Homo sapiens: one gene and its partner. The protein of the gene in region 1 interacts with the protein of each later gene in a pairwise test. Each region holds a gene or a part of one and is shown on either strand. Other genes may lie near its edges.

The links. The genes of interacting proteins can lie anywhere in the genome.
Region 2: the proteins of APOC4 (region 1) and SYT16 interact in binary tests that used the Homo sapiens proteins (3 or more experiments, as listed by UniProt).

Annotation. Positions count from the first base shown.
Region 1 is NC_000019.10:44,937,695-44,945,611, forward strand, and holds APOC4 (apolipoprotein C-IV precursor), read left to right. Parts: upstream 1-4,542; 5' UTR 4,543-4,583; coding exon 4,584-4,659; intron 4,660-7,054; coding exon 7,055-7,196; intron 7,197-7,445; coding exon 7,446-7,611; 3' UTR 7,612-7,802; downstream 7,803-7,917. UniProt on the Homo sapiens protein: May participate in lipoprotein metabolism.
Region 2 is NC_000014.9:61,990,419-61,998,091, forward strand, and holds part of SYT16 (synaptotagmin-16), read left to right. Parts: intron 1-5,457; 5' UTR 5,458-5,601; coding exon 5,602-6,124; intron 6,125-7,673. UniProt on the Homo sapiens protein: May be involved in the trafficking and exocytosis of secretory vesicles in non-neuronal tissues. Is Ca(2+)-independent.

The sequences.
Region 1 (7,917 bases):
CTTGAACCCAGGAGATGGAGGTTGCAGTGAGCCGAGATCGCGCCACTGCACTCCAACATGGGCAATAGAGCAAGACTCCATCTCAAAAAACAAAGAAGGGAGGGAGGGAAGGAAAGAAAGGAAAAGAAGCAACAGGTAGAGTCAGGCTCTGAACCCCACACCAATCATAACACAACACACAGTAGGTTTGTTTTTGTTTTTTATTTTGGGCTTTTGTTTGTTGTGGAGACAGCGTCACCCAGGCTGTAATGCAATGGTACAATCATAGCTCACTGTAGCCCTGAACTCCTAGACTCAAACAATCCTCCCACCTCGGCCTCCTGAGTAGCTGGGACTACAGGGGCATGCCACCACGCCTAGCTAAATTTTTTTTTTTTATTTTTAGTAGAGATGAGGTCTCCCTATGTTGCCCAGATTAGTGTCTTAACTCCTGGGCTCAGGTGATCCTGCCACCAGGGATTACAGGCACGAGCCACCATGCTGGCCCTTGTTTTTTGTTGTTTTTTTTTTTTTTTTTTGAGACGGAGTCTCGCTTTGTCGCCCAGGCTGGAGTGCAGTGGCGGGATCTCGGCTCACTGCAAGCTCCGCCTCCCGGGTTCACGCCATTCTCCTGCCTCAGCCTCCCAAGTAGCTGGGACTACAGGCGCCCGCCACTATGACCGGCTAATTTTTTTGTATTTTTAGTAGAGACGGGGTTTCACCGTTTTAGCCGGGATGGTCTCGATCTCCTGACCTCGTGATCCGCCCGCCTCGGCCTCCCAAAGTGCTGGGATTACAGGCGTGAGCCACCGCGCCCGGCCTGTTTTTTTTTTTTTTTTTGAGACTGAGTCTCGCACTGTCGCCCAGGCTGGAGTGCAGTGGCGCGATCTCGGCTCACTGCAACCTCCACCTTCCAGGTTCAAGCAATTCTCCTGCCTCAGCCTCCTGAGTAGCTGAGATTACAGGTGCCCACCACGATGCCCAGCTAACTTTTTTTTTTTTTTTGGTATTTTTAGTAGAGACGGGGGTTTCACCATGTTGGTCAGGCTGGTCTCGAACTCCTGACCTCGTGATCCGCCCGCCTTGGCCTCCCAAAGTGATGGGATTACAGGCGTGAGCCACCGTGCCCAGCTTTTTTTTTTTTTTTTTAAGAGACGGGGTCTTACTATGTTGCCCAGGCTGGACTCTCAAACTCCTGGGCTCAAGGAATCCTTCTACCACAGCTTTCTGAGTAGCTGGGGCTACAAGCCCCTGCCACAGTACCTGGCTGTTTTTGTTTTTTTATAATTGTGGTAAAATATAAACAACATGGCCGGGTGTGGTGGCTCACGCCTGTAATCTCAACACTCTGGGAGGTTGAGGTGGGAGGATTACTTGAACCCAGGAGTTCAAGACCAGTCTGGGCAACTTGGCAAAACTGTGTTTCTACAAAAAATAAAAATATTAGCTGGGCAGCCAGGCGCAGTGGCTCATGCCTGCAATCCCAGCACTTTGGGAGGCTGAGGTGGATGGATCACCTGAGAGGTCAGGAGTTTGAGACCACCCTGGCCAACATGGTGAAAACCTGTCTCTTTAAAAATACAAAAAAATGAGCCAGCCATGGTGGCTCACGCCTGTAATCCCAGCACTTTGAGAGGCCAAGGCAGGTGGATCACCTGAGGTCAGGAGTTCAAGACCAACCTGGCCAACATTGTGAAACCCCGTCTCTACTAAAAATACAAAAAATTAGCTGGGCATGGTGGCAGGCGCTTATAATTCCAGCTACTAAGGAGGCTGAGGCCGGAGAATCGCTTGAACCCGGGAGGCGGAGGTTGCAGTGAGTCAAGATCGCACCATTGCACTCCAGCCTGGGCAACAAGAGCGAAACTATGTCTCAAATACATACATACATACAAAAAATTAGCCGGGTGTGGTTGCCGCACACCTGTAATCCCAGCTACGCGGGAGGCTGAAGCAGGAGAATCGCTGGAACCCGGGAGGCAGAGGTTGCAGTGAGCCAAGATCACACCATTGCACTCTATCCTGGGTGACGGAGTGAGACTCTGCCTCAAAAAAAAAAAAAAAAAAAAAAAAACTTAACCATTGCAGCCATTTTTAGGTGTACAGTTCAGTGGCATTAAGTACATTCACACTGTTGTGCAACCATCCCCACTATTTGCAGGATGTCTTCGTCATCCCAAACAGAAACTCTGGGTGTTTTCAATCTGCTGATGATTGCTACAGAGGAATTCCAGGGGACATCTGTTGCGCACCTACTGTGCTCACGCTGGGGCCTCTGGGATGGACAGGATTCTGCCAAGGCAGACATCTGGGTCAAGACAGTCCTGCACAGTTGTTCAGGTTGTGGCCAAGGTTGCGTTTGCAGATTTGCCATGTAAAAATACAGGATGCTCAGTTACATTTGAATTTCAGATTAATAGCAAAAAAAACTTTTTGGTATAATTCTGAAATATTTCATGGGACATATTTATACTAAAACGTCATGCACTGTTGATTTGAAATTCAAATGTAATTGGGCCTCCTCTATTTCGTCTGGCAAGCGTAGACAAAAGAATCCAGTCCAGGCCAGGCGCAGTGGCTCAAGCCTGTAATCCCAGCACTTTGGGAGGCCGAGGCGGGCGGATCACGAGGTCAGGAGATCGAGACCATCCTGGCTAACACGGTGAAACCCCGTCTCTACTAAAAATACAAAAAATTAGCTGGGCGTGGTGGCGGGTGCCTGTAGTCCCAGCTACTCGGGAGGCTGAGGCAGGAGAATGGCGTGAACCTGGGAGGCGGAGCTTGCAGTGAGCCGAGATCGCGCCACAGCACTCCAGCCTGGGCGACAGAGCCAGACTCTGTCTCAAAAAAAAAAAAAAGAATCCAGTCCATAGTCCCCTGAGCCATGTGCCCTGGGGTGCAGCTGGGTCCTTCAGGAGAAAAATGCTCTATTTCTGGCACTGGGACCGAGCCTGATGTGGGTTTTTTGTTGGTTTTTGTTGTTGTTATTGTTTTTGAGACAAGGTCTCGCTCCACCACACCCGGCTAATTTTTGTATTTTTAGTAGAGACGGGGTTTCACTACGTTGGCCAGGCTGGTCTTGAACTCCTGACCTCAAGTGAGCCGCCTGCCTCGGCCTCCCAAAGTGCTGGGATTACAGGTGGGAGCCACCGCCCTGGCCCTGGGCCTGATGTTGATGACCTCCTACTATGTGCACCTGCAGCTCTCCTGCATAGGCCTCAGCCGTCCTGCATGAGGACACTGGGAGGCAGGTGCTCCCTATCAACCCCGTGTTACAGTTGAACAAACTGAGCCCCAGAAAAGAAAACGTATTTGCCCAGGTCACACGGTGAAGAAGTGAGGGATTCGAAGCCCAGGTCCATCTGAAGCCAGAGTCACCCAGAGGAGAAAGAGTTGGAATTGAGAACTCAAGGAATGCTTGGAAGTGATCGGGCTCGAGCCCACCTAGGAAGAAACAGAGGCTGGAGACATGAGACTGTGTTGCTATTTCCTCTCATCAACCCTTGGGCCCTATTGAGGCCCTACCACAAGCCTGGCCCTGCAGCCCAGTGACTAGGAGAAATTAGACACAAGATAATAATAACAGCAATGATCTTTTTTTTTTTTCTGAGACGGAGTCTTGCTCTTTCGCCCAGGCTGGACTGCAGTGGCGCGATCTCGGCTCAATGCAAGCTCCACCTCCCAGGTTCACGCCATTCTCCTGCCTCAGCCTCCCGAGTAGCTAGGACTACAGGCGCCTGCCACCACGCCTGGCTAATTTTTCATATTTTTAGTAGAGATGGGGTTTCACCGTGTTAGCCAAGATGGTCTCAATCTCCTGACCTCGTGATCCGCCTGCCTCGGCCTCCCAAAGTGTTGGGGTTACAGGCATGAGCCACCGCGCCTGGCCAACAGCAATGATCTTTGAGCACCTATATTGCCAGTCTCCACGGTAAGAGCTTTCTTCATTTTTTGTTTTGTTTTGTTTCAAGACAGAGTCTTGCTCTGTCACCCAGGCTGGAGTGCAGTGGTGTGATCGCGGCTCACTGCAGCCTTCACTTCCCGGGTTCAAGCCATTCTCCTGCCTCAGCCTCCCAAGTAGCTGGGATTACAGGCACGCATCACTACTTCTGGCTAATTTTTGTATTTTTAGTAGGGACAGGGTTTTTCACCATGTTGGCCAGGTTGGTCTCAAACTCCTGGCCTCATATGATCTGCCCACCTCGGCCTCCCAAAGTGCTGGGATTACAGGCGTGAGCCACTGCGCCTTTCTTTGTATTTGTTCAAGTAATATACTGAAATATGTACTGTGCCTCCCACTTTATGGAGGAGGAAACTGAGGCCAGCAAATGAGGCTGTCATGGGAGGTGGAGACAGGATTTGAACCTGCCTCAGTGCAGGAGGCTCAAGAGCCTCTGTCTTCTCTCAGGGCACTGTGTGGGAGGGTGAGAAGGAGGGAGGCCCACAGAGGCATGACCTCTGATTGCCACTGTCACCTGGGCCCTGCTCTCTGAAGTCTCTGCCAAGCGGGGAGGTGGCCGGGGGAGGGCCCTGCTCTGTGCAGCCTCCCCTCCCCCGGCCCGCAGAGTTGAGCACAGAGGGACAGAGGCACGGAACCCCCAGAAATGTCCCTCCTCAGAAACAGGCTCCAGGCCCTGCCTGCCCTGTGCCTCTGCGTGCTGGTCCTGGCCTGCATTGGGGGTGAGAAGAAGTGGGTGGAGGGATGTGGGGCCCACACCTGGTGGGTGTGAGTGTGGCTGTGTGTCCTGTGGCTCTGTAGCCACGTGAGACATGAGTACGGAGTGTGTGCGTTTCATGGCGTGCGTATGCATGTGCGTGTCGGGGAGTGTGTGTGTCGGTGGCTGAGAGTGAAGTGTGAATGTCACATTGGTACAAACTGGGATCATCTGTGTGTGTGCACGTGCGTGCGTGGAAGTGGGAGTATGCAGTCGTGGTAAAAAAGTGCATGTCTGTGTGCATATGTGTATTTGTGTGCACCTGTCTCTCTGTGGGGTATGTGTGTGCAAAATATTTGAGTGTGTGGACATGTGTGAGGGGGTGAGTGTGTGCTGGTGTGTACGTCTGTGTTTTGCATATGCATTTTTTTTTTTTTTTTTGAGACGGAGTCTCACTCTGTCACCCAGGCTGGAGTGCAGTGGTAGCAGTGGTGCGATCTTGGCTCACTGCATCATCCGCCTACCCGTTTCAAGGGATTCTCCTGCCTCAGTCTTCAGAGTATTTGGGACTACAGACACACGCCACCATGCCTGGCTAATTTTTTTTTTTTGAGACGGAGTCTCGCTCTGTTACCCAGGCTGGAGTGCAGTGGCGTGATCTTGGCTCACTGCAACGTCCGCCTCCCGGGTTCACGCCATTCTCCTGCCTCAGCCTCCCGAGTAGCTGGGACTACAGGAGCCCACCACCACGCCTGGCTAATTTTTTGTATTTTTACTAGAGACGGGGTTTCGCCGTGTTAGCCAGGATGGTCTCCATATCCTGACCTCGTGATCCGCCTGCCTCGGCCTTCCAAAGTGCTAGGATTATAGGCGTGAGCCACTGCGCCTGGCCAATGCCTGGCTAATTTTTTTATATTTTTGGTAGAGACAGGGTTTTGCCATGTTGCCCAGGCTGGTCTTGAAATCCTGACCTCAGGTGATCCGCCCGCCTTGGCCTCCCAAAGTGCTGGGATTACAGGCATGAGCCACCACGCCCGGCCATGTACTTTATGTTAAAATGGGATCATATTCTAGATCAGCATTATCCAGTAGAAATTTAAATTTTTAATACAGGGCCAGGCACGGTGGCTCATGCCTGTAATCCCAGCACTTTCGGAGGCCGAGGCGGGTGGATCGCAAGGTCAGGAGATTTGAGATCATCCTGGCTAACAGATGGGTAAAAACCCATCTCTACTAAAAATACAAAAAATTAGCCATGCATGGTGGCATGCGCCTGTAGTCCCAGCTACTCGGGAGGCTGAGGCCGGAGAATCACTTGAACCCGGGAGGCAGAGGTTGCAGTGAGCCGAGATCGCGCCACTGCATTCCAACCTGGGTGACAGAGCGAGACTCCGTCTGAAAAAAAAAAAAAATTTAACACGTATGTAGACAATGTGCAAGGCACCATTCCATGTGCATCGTATGTAGTAACTCTTAATTCTCACGATAACCCTGAGGTAGATATTATTACCCCGTTCTACAAAAGGAGAAACAGTCCTGGGGAGACAGGATAAGTCACCGGCCAAGGCACACAGCTAGCTACATGTGGCCCCCGCGTGACGGCTGGTCTCTGTAGGCGAGGCTTTGTCCAGATGCGTGGGTAGAAGGTCTGGCCCGGAAAGAGGAACTGACAGCAAGGCTAAGCCAATGTCTGCCCCTGGGGGCAGAAAGTCACCTCCTGCTCTCCCTCCACTGTCCACAGAGGTAGCTCAGACAGGGTGGGGGTCACAGGAGAACGAAGGGAGAAGGGGGTAGTTCCTGGGCAGCAAAATCAGGTGGTGAAGGGAGGCATCAGAGGATGGCAATTAGAGAGGCCATTAGAGGGGAACCACAGGCAGACAGGGTGACAGGAGGGACTACTGACACAAGGTGAAGAGATGGCCCAGCCGGACGGGGTGGCTCACATCTGTAATCCCAGCATTTTGGGAGCCCGAGGTGGGTGGATCACTTGAGGTCAGGAGTTCGAGGCCCCAACATGGCAAAACCCCATCTCTTCTAAAAATACAAAAATTAGCCGGGCATGATGGCAGATGCCTGTAATCCCTGCTACTCGGGAGGCTGAGGCAGGAAAATTGCCTGAATCCAGGAGGTGGAGGTTGCAATGAGACGAGATCATGACACTGCACTCCACCCTGGGCAACAGAGCAAGAGACTGACTCTGTCTCATAAAAAAAAAGAAAAAAGAAAAAAAAAAAGAGATGGCTGATGGTTAAAGAGGGGTTAGCGGTCAGGGGACACATAAGGGTAAAGGCAGGAGGCAAGAGGACTGGCAGGGGGCTGCCCCTGGGCCACCGGGAGCGACACAGGATGAGCATGGAGGGAAAGGGAGAAGGGGATTCTAGGGTCCCAGCCTACCCAAGTTGCCCTCTGGTTCCACCTAGCATGCCAGCCAGAGGCCCAGGAAGGAACCCTGAGCCCCCCACCAAAGCTAAAGATGAGTCGCTGGAGCCTGGTGAGGGGCAGGATGAAGGAGCTGCTGGAGACAGTGGTGAACAGGACCAGAGACGGGTGGCAATGGTTCTGGTGAGGGTGTGCTGGGCTGGGTGGTGGGAGGGGACTCCTGGGTCTGAGGGAGGAGGGGCTGGGGCCTGGACCCCTGAGTCTCAGGGAGGAGGAAAGGGTGGGAGTGGGGCTGTGACCCCTAGGTCTGGGAGGAGTGGAGGGTTAGAGCTGAGAGCAGGAACTCCTAGGTCACAGAGAGGAGCGGATAAATGGGGCAGAGAACACCTGGGGAGAGCTGGGGCCTCCACTGTGATGTCCTCTCTCCTGTAGGAGCCCGAGCACCTTCCGGGGCTTCATGCAGACCTACTATGACGACCACCTGAGGGACCTGGGTCCGCTCACCAAGGCCTGGTTCCTCGAATCCAAAGACAGCCTCTTGAAGAAGACCCACAGCCTGTGCCCCAGGCTTGTCTGTGGGGACAAGGACCAGGGTTAAAATGTTCATAAAAGCCAGGTGTGGTTGTGGCGGGTGCCTGTAGTCCCAGCTACTCAGGAGGCTGAGGTAGGATGATGGCTTGAGCCCAGGAGTTCGAGACCAGCCTGGGCAACACAGCGAGATCTCTTGGGGGTAAAACAAAAAGAAAAAAAAAAGTTCATACTTCTCCAATAAATAAAGTCTCACCTGTGTCCCTGTCTGGATCCTTCCCCAGTGTGGCCAGAAAAAAACCCACCCCACTGCCTCCCAGGAATCAATGAGTAGAAGAGGTGACACCTGATGGGGAAGGAAGAGTAGGGAGGTCGG
Region 2 (7,673 bases), on another chromosome or scaffold:
ATGAGAAGAGTATATTTTTCCAAGTGATTTCTCCTTCAAGAAATGATGAACATCAGCACACTTTAGTAGATGAACTTGTATACAATTTTGATTTGATGTTTGGTTACCTGGGGACCATATTATTGGAAACATGTTCTTGTCTTTCAGAATGTGTCTGACTTTCTCCAGGAGTTAGTTGATAATCCTTTGAAAATCACACAGGCATACAGGCTTCTGCTTTAGCTTTCACCAAAATAACAGATTTTTAAAGCACAGCTTCTAGAATCTGGTATTTCTTCTTAGGTCGTAACTGTCCCCCAACCCTGCAAGCAACCCCATCAGATAGAAAATGGGGTTGGAAAGATTTAACTAACAACCCTTAAAGGACTATGAGCATTGTTATTCTGGGATGGAATACCTCTTCTCTGTTCACAGTTAGCTTTGGTGAGAACAATCAAAATATTTGATAAAACATATGGCTCAGGAATTTGACAGTTTTTCTTTCTACAGAAACACAACTCTTTAATATTTACTGCTTAGTCATTTCCTATGTACAAAATGATCTTAATTAAAATAGAATTCCAATTAAACCAAGATTTTAAAAAAGTAGCCTTTAAGAATATATTTATTTATGGCTTTTTAAAATCTTTATCAATTGCTACTAATTCTTTCTTAGATTGTCAGTTTATTCTGAGTACTTCAATACTTTGTAAATCTTCCCAGGTCATGTTTGTGATAGAAGCTTGTATGGTAAACACACACACACACATACACACACACCATCTTTTTTTGTTGTCTCATTTTATACTTCCATAGTGATGAGATATCATGAACCATTTCAATTGTAATAATGGGCCTTCTCAGATATGACAAGACCTTAAATGTATTTTTCCTTCTAATCCAGGGAACTGGACTTTTTTTCTGTTTTTCATTTGTGTGTGTGTGTGTGTGTGTGTGTGTGTGTGTTTTCTAAAACACCAGAAGCTACTTTGTCTTCTTGTTAGCTGTAAGAAAGCCACCAAAGAAGTAGGATACAGTATATATCTGGCATTATTATCCTTGGTGTGCTCTACCAATCAAGTTGAAATTTACCTAAGCCCCAAAGATATCTCCATGGTTACCCTGCCAGTGCTGGGCCTCTTTGGCTTTAGGCTGATTTAGCATAAAATGAAAGATCTCTGGCGTTGCTAACTAGGTAGTTTTTCAGATTCTAGCTGTAGGTTTCATTTCTTTTTGAGTATTTTAGAATATAGCAACTGGACACTCTTTTATATAAAGACTGAGATTTGGCTTCTTTCCAATTATTCTGGGATCATCTCACAATGGTTATTGACAAAAAAGTACAGAACTATTCCATGAAAAGGCATCTTGCTTCTGGTTGTATCCGTCCTCAATATTACAATGTTCTGTGGCACACAATGGCAAATTCTTGGATTTAAGAGCAGAAAGGGTGTTAAAAGTCATCTAGTGCGTTAATGCCACTTTAGAGATGAATAAATAGAAAGGAATCAGGTTTACTTAGCTTTAAATGTTTTCACTAATAACTTTGTTCGTTCATTCATTCATTCATTCATTCATTCATTCATTCATTCATGGAACATGGAGAGCCCCTGCCCTGTGTGGATTCTGGAGCTACAAAGTATAAGCACAGCCCTAGCACTTGTGGACTCCCAGTCCATTGGAAGAGGAAGACTGACAAATATCCATTATACCGAGGGAAACGTTATATCATAAAGGCACATTCAAAACACTCTGAGGCCACACCTTTGATTGTAGATGAAGAGTTGACAGAGGAAGCAATAAACATTTCCTCATAAAAAATGAGTATCGGGCAGTTTAGGGAGAGAAGTCATCCTGGGCAAAACAAACAGAAGTCAGGAAAGAGCACAGTCACTTTGGAAAATGCTTAGTGTGTCAGTGAGACTGGCACATAGGACTTTACAGCGAGGAGTGGTAAGGAAAGGCTGAGTTCTCATGGCGCGGCAGCATTATTGCGGACAGCTCAGACAGCTAGGTATTCAGTGAGGACAAAAGGCGGGAGCTCCGTGAGTTGCTGTTGTCCTGAAATTAGTTCCAAGCTGGTTGATAAATAGCCACCGATCTGAAGCCCCTTCCAGTGTCCTTTTGTACCTCTAGACCTCCTCAGACCCAGTGATACAGCAATTAAAGTGTTTACACTTTGCAGGAAGCCTTTAGGATCCCCCCAGCACTAAGCCCAGTTGGATGGTGCTGATAATTATTATTATTGTTTTTTTGAGCACTTCTCCTCTTGTATGCCACAGTACAGAATTTGAACTTTATCCTATAGGGTGGGGCTTGGAAATTCAAATGCATCCAGGGGTCGGGCAGGCTACATAGAAATGAGTGAAGCGAGTGGATTGTAAACAACAGGGAGAGGTGAAGATTATATAGAGTTGGAAACATTCAAATTAATTTTTAAAAAACGCTATATCAACAAACATAAATGAGTAGTGATTTTGACAGCACCAGTGCTCAAACTTTGCAGTTTAAGTAACAGGGAATCATAATGGCTTTTTTTCTTTAAAACTAGGAGAATGATCAAAATTCATTTTTTACAAAATTTGCCATTTTGATGAACTGTCAATTTTTGTAAAAAATGAATTTTTTCATTTTCGTTTTGATGAACAGAGATTATAGAAACCAAGGGGATATGAGGCCAAGAATATGAGCTGTACTAATTTGAAGATTTGGACAAGAAGATGCTGGCTCAAATTCAGAGATTTTGGGTTGCATATGAAAACAAAGTTTTCTACCAAACATCACATATGCTCACTCAAAAGTGGGAGTTGAACAGTGAGAACACATGGACACAGGAAGGGGAACATCACACACCGGGGCCTGTGGGGGTGTGGGGGGCAAGGGGAGGGAGAGCATTAGGACAAATACCTAATGCATGTGGGGCTTAAAACCTAGATCCAGATTGATGGGTGCAGCAAATCACCATGGCACATGTATACCTATGTAACAAACCTGCACGTCTGCACATGTATCCCAGAACTGAAATAAAAAAAATTAAAAAATTCAGAACAACAACAACAAAAAACTCAAAGTTTTTTTGTGTGTAATAGAATGATGGAAGAATTATTAAGGAAAACATGTCATTTCTGGCTTAAAAAGTTTAAGGTACCAAAAAGATGGCCGTGGGAGCTAAAGCCACTGGAATCTCAGAGAGAACCTTGTAAATCTGTGACGCACTGAAGCTTAGTAACTTACACAAAATATTTGCAGAGAAAAAAAAAACCCGAAAAACTTTGAGTGGCGAAATGGGATGTAACAAATGGCAAAAGGATCTTTACTGTTGTTACTATGCAGGGAACTTATGTGATAACATTGTTTAACATCTTTTTAACAGTTCTGGATAGAATTTATCCATCAACTTAACCAATTTACTGAGTACATAATATATGCTAGGTGTTGTTTTTTGCATGATTTTTAATAGGATTTGTTATTGAGAATTCACTATGTGCTCAGCACACTTCTAGGCAATGGGGATAAAATAGAGAACTAAACAGACAATCCCTGCCATCCAGGGAGCCTCCATTCTAGAGCAGGAGACAGGTGTAAACCTCATATAAAATCAGGTTATGGTGAGCAAACAGAATGAATTGAGTCTGGGTAAGAAGAGCATATGAAGCGAACTAGGTATGTAGTATGTGAGGGAACTAGGGTGTGGGGAATGAGATAACTGTACAAAATATGATGAAAGAGAATCTTTGGAGACCAAAAGCTAACGGAGTTTGGAATGGAAGAAGGTAGTGTTGAAGAGAGAAATTCACAATCCCCCATGTTGTGAGTCTAGAGTGATGAACGCTTGTAGCAAAGTGATACACTAGGTTTGGATGAGCTGAATTTGAGATTTTAGTGAGACATCCAAGTCTATCAGTATTTCTCAAACTTCCGTGGGTGTCAGACTCACCTGGAGTACTTGCCAAAAATCCCAAGGTTCAGACTAGGCCCTTTTCCTTCAACCAGCCTGGGCCTTTGTGTTCTTTATTAGCTCACTAGGTGTTTCTGACACACCAGAGTTTGAGAATCATTGGCTTTGACAGCCACAGATACAAGCCTGGAAAGAAAAATTGAGCAAAGGCTGGAGATGTATATTTTGGAGTTTCAAAAAGGTGTTAATTGAAATGTAGGGATGGGCCTACTCTTGCAGCTGGTGAATATAACAGGGAAGGGAAGCCATAGGACAAGTTTTGGTTGTATACATGTAGGTGGTGGGAAGACAAGGAGGAGCCTGAAAGAGCGACACATGAATTATTCAGCATAGGGGGGAAATGTGGAGAACTCAGTTCCCCTGTAACTGAAATGTGGGCTGTATGGAGGCAAAGCCCTCAGGATTACCTTATCCCTGGCATTGTGCCAGCATTTAATAGATAATCAATATTTGTTTATTGAATAAGTCAATGCATCCATGAATGGCTAATAAAAAATTTTTAGAATGTAAGTAGTCATATCACATGCAGTGGCTGAGGTCAAGAGACTAAGGGATAGCTAGTAGATTTAGTTAAAAGGAAGTTATTGCTATACAAGATATTGGGTAATTAAGTTTAAGCAGTGTGTTAGGCCCTCTAGTCATTTGTAACGTTCATCTTGAGCTGTTGATGAACACTGTAATAGCAATAAGATATATACACACATAATATACACACATATGTGTATGTATACATTGTATGCACATATACATGTAAAAGTATAAATATTTAGCTCTGGGGTCTTCATAGTGTCCTGTGGTTCTGTTGATATCCTGGAGCTGCTTCCTTCAGGCTGTAAATCTTGTGGGATGAAGTGTGATTTAGGAGTCTGAAAGATTGTGGAGAGCTATCTATCTTCGGGAGGTTGGAACATAGACAAAAGCAATGAGATTCCAGGGACATGTCTTCAGTAAGCTAGATAATCCATTTGCCACCCTCAGTTTTTCAGCGATTGCTCCCCAAGAATAGATATGATTTCTAGAGATTGCATAAAAATATAAAATCCTATTTTAAGATTTGTTTAAAGCTTTTTAATTCCAGACACATACTTCCTTTGCAAGTATAAACTTTAGTGTCATAAAGCAGAGATGCTTATTAGTCAGCTCTTTGGGATCTGCAGGTTTGTAGATGAAACATCTGACCTTTTTTGCGTTTTGAAATGTCATGCCCAATTGGATCTTAATGAAGATTCATTTATCCTTTTCACACTGTTAAGGATGGTCTATGGGGATAGACTTCTCTCAGTCCACGTGAACAGAACCCATTACTGCTAATGGAAGTTTTCCACATGGCTATGGAGGTGAATAGGCATTGAAATAATCTACATCTAGACTTTCACAGTCATTTTTATGTAACTATTTTAAGATTTTCCTGATGATCCCTTTTTGTGCCCAAATGCTGTTTGACATCGTCTGTAGGTATCTGGTGATGGGTCTGAGGTTGTAACTTTAACAGGTGTAAGTATTTCTTTCCTCTGTTTCAGCTGGAAGTTTTGAGAGTGAAATATTCACAGCCATTAAGAGACCTCCAAATTAATTTCTCAACATGCTTATTCTATAGTTCACATTCAATCCAGAGCACTGAAGGAACTGAACAACTGGACACTGTAGACATCAGATAGCTGGCCATGGTGTTGGCCATGGCGTCTCAGGATGTTCAGAACTTCTTCCAGCCTTTCTCTTCCTGGATATCTCGGGTTTATGAAGCTCTCCAGCAAGCAGGAGATATGTTATCTGCTTCGCTGGTTAACATAAGCAAACAAGACTCTAAATTGAGTGACAAACTAGATCAGGACTTAGATAATATTCAGATTCAGGAAACGTACTTTGAAGATGAAGAACAAGACAATGATTGGAGTCAAGAGGATGCAAATTCCTTGTTTCTTGAAGTGGATCATTTCTCATGTTGTAATAGTGATTTGCAGGACTCTGCCCAAAATTCAAGCCCAAGCCTTAGCCAACATGCAAAGGACTCATGTTCCACAATGTCCCAGTGGCCCAATTGGGCCAGTGATGACCGCAAGTTACCACATGTGCTTTCTTCTATTGCGGAGGAAGAGCATCACCTTGAAAAGCAAAGAAGTGGCCTTCAACATGGCTTTGACAGCCAGCTCCCTGGTACTTTAGAAACTGTTAATGGAAAAAAGCAAGGTAAGCTAGCCAGTCATCATTTTCTCTGCGTTCCTCCAAAGAGCATTTCTACTTATTTTATTTTGACTTGTTTTTAGTTATCATGTGGATTTTATTTTTCTCTCTCTTATACCTTCCCACATACTGGCTTCTGATTGAGAGATATAATCCTTAGGAATATTTTCAATATATAAAGCTTTGGAGGATCCACGTTTGGGAGTTCCATATTTCAAAACAATAGTTCTGAGCAAGTGAAATGGTGAAAAACGAGTCTGTGGATTCTGTTTGAGAAGCCCCTTGTGCACATGTCATGCTTTTAAAAATATCTTGCAAAATGTTCTTTTTTTCTTCTAGGTTAGGAATTTCTAGATGTTACTATATTATTCAGTGTGAAATCCTGTGCAAAAAGCCGTACTTATCGCAGAATTTTTAGTTGATAACACTCCAAGAACACTTCTCACAGTGTTTCACTGAGACGTGATGTGAGATGACAGTGGATAGGAAATCTCTGAAATAAGAATAGCTTGATTTTCTTTTAGCTCTGAATGGTAAGGACACATTTAATAAAAACTGCCTATAAAGATTTATGCTGTGAGAACTGAGCACATATTGGGCCTTCAATAAATGTATATTGAATATGATAAAAATGTAATTAACTCTCTAAAAGTAGCTGAGGTGTGTTCCAGCATGAATTTCTCATGCCTCTAATACTCTAACCTTGAAGTAAGGACATTCCACCTGGTTAAGGGACAGAGGTAAATGATATACACAGAAGGGATTTGGGTATGTGTGCATGGTGTGTAGTTGTAATGCACATATAAGTCACACAGATTGGTGAGTCATTTATGTGATCTAAAGACAAAGTTATTCAATGTCCCTCTTGCTGGAGAGAGCAGACTTTTCTGGAATACCTCATAGTCCCTTCATTCATTTTCCATGATTCCTATTAGCTTTGTCTTTTTAGGGAAAAGTTTTATCCAGATATATGAAGTCTTGGCATATAAAGAAACACAATTTCATATTCTTCTCATAATGCTCTCTTGATACTTTTATTCAAATTAAGGTAACATTGAAATGCTAGAATAAATTGGTGAAAATGAGGTAGGCTGATATTCTTTCTGAACCTGATAAGCTGTAGCTAATTGCAATTTTGAGTCTTTTAAATTGGCTATAGAAATATTCTAGAAATATCTGGGCCAGCAGTAGAATTTCTTAGATTTGAGTTGAAATTTCGATTCCTATTTTAGAACATTCTTGAAAAGGTTGAACTATATTTGAAATTGATATGAATTTGGCATACCACTAATTTTGCTAATTTTTGTAATTGTAAAATCTAATGGCAGTAAAACAATTGTGTTCATCTGGCCTTTCCAGAGATGCTTATTCACTAGATTGGAGCCTCCAGGAAGTCAGGGACCATGCCATAGATTCATCTCTGTTTTCTTAACAATGAGCACAGTGTTGGGTAGGAGATCAAATAATAATTAACGATGGAACAGCAACAAGGAAAGCTAACAATGTTAAGAGGTAGATGCTGTTATTACTCTCACTTTACAGTTGAGAAAATTGA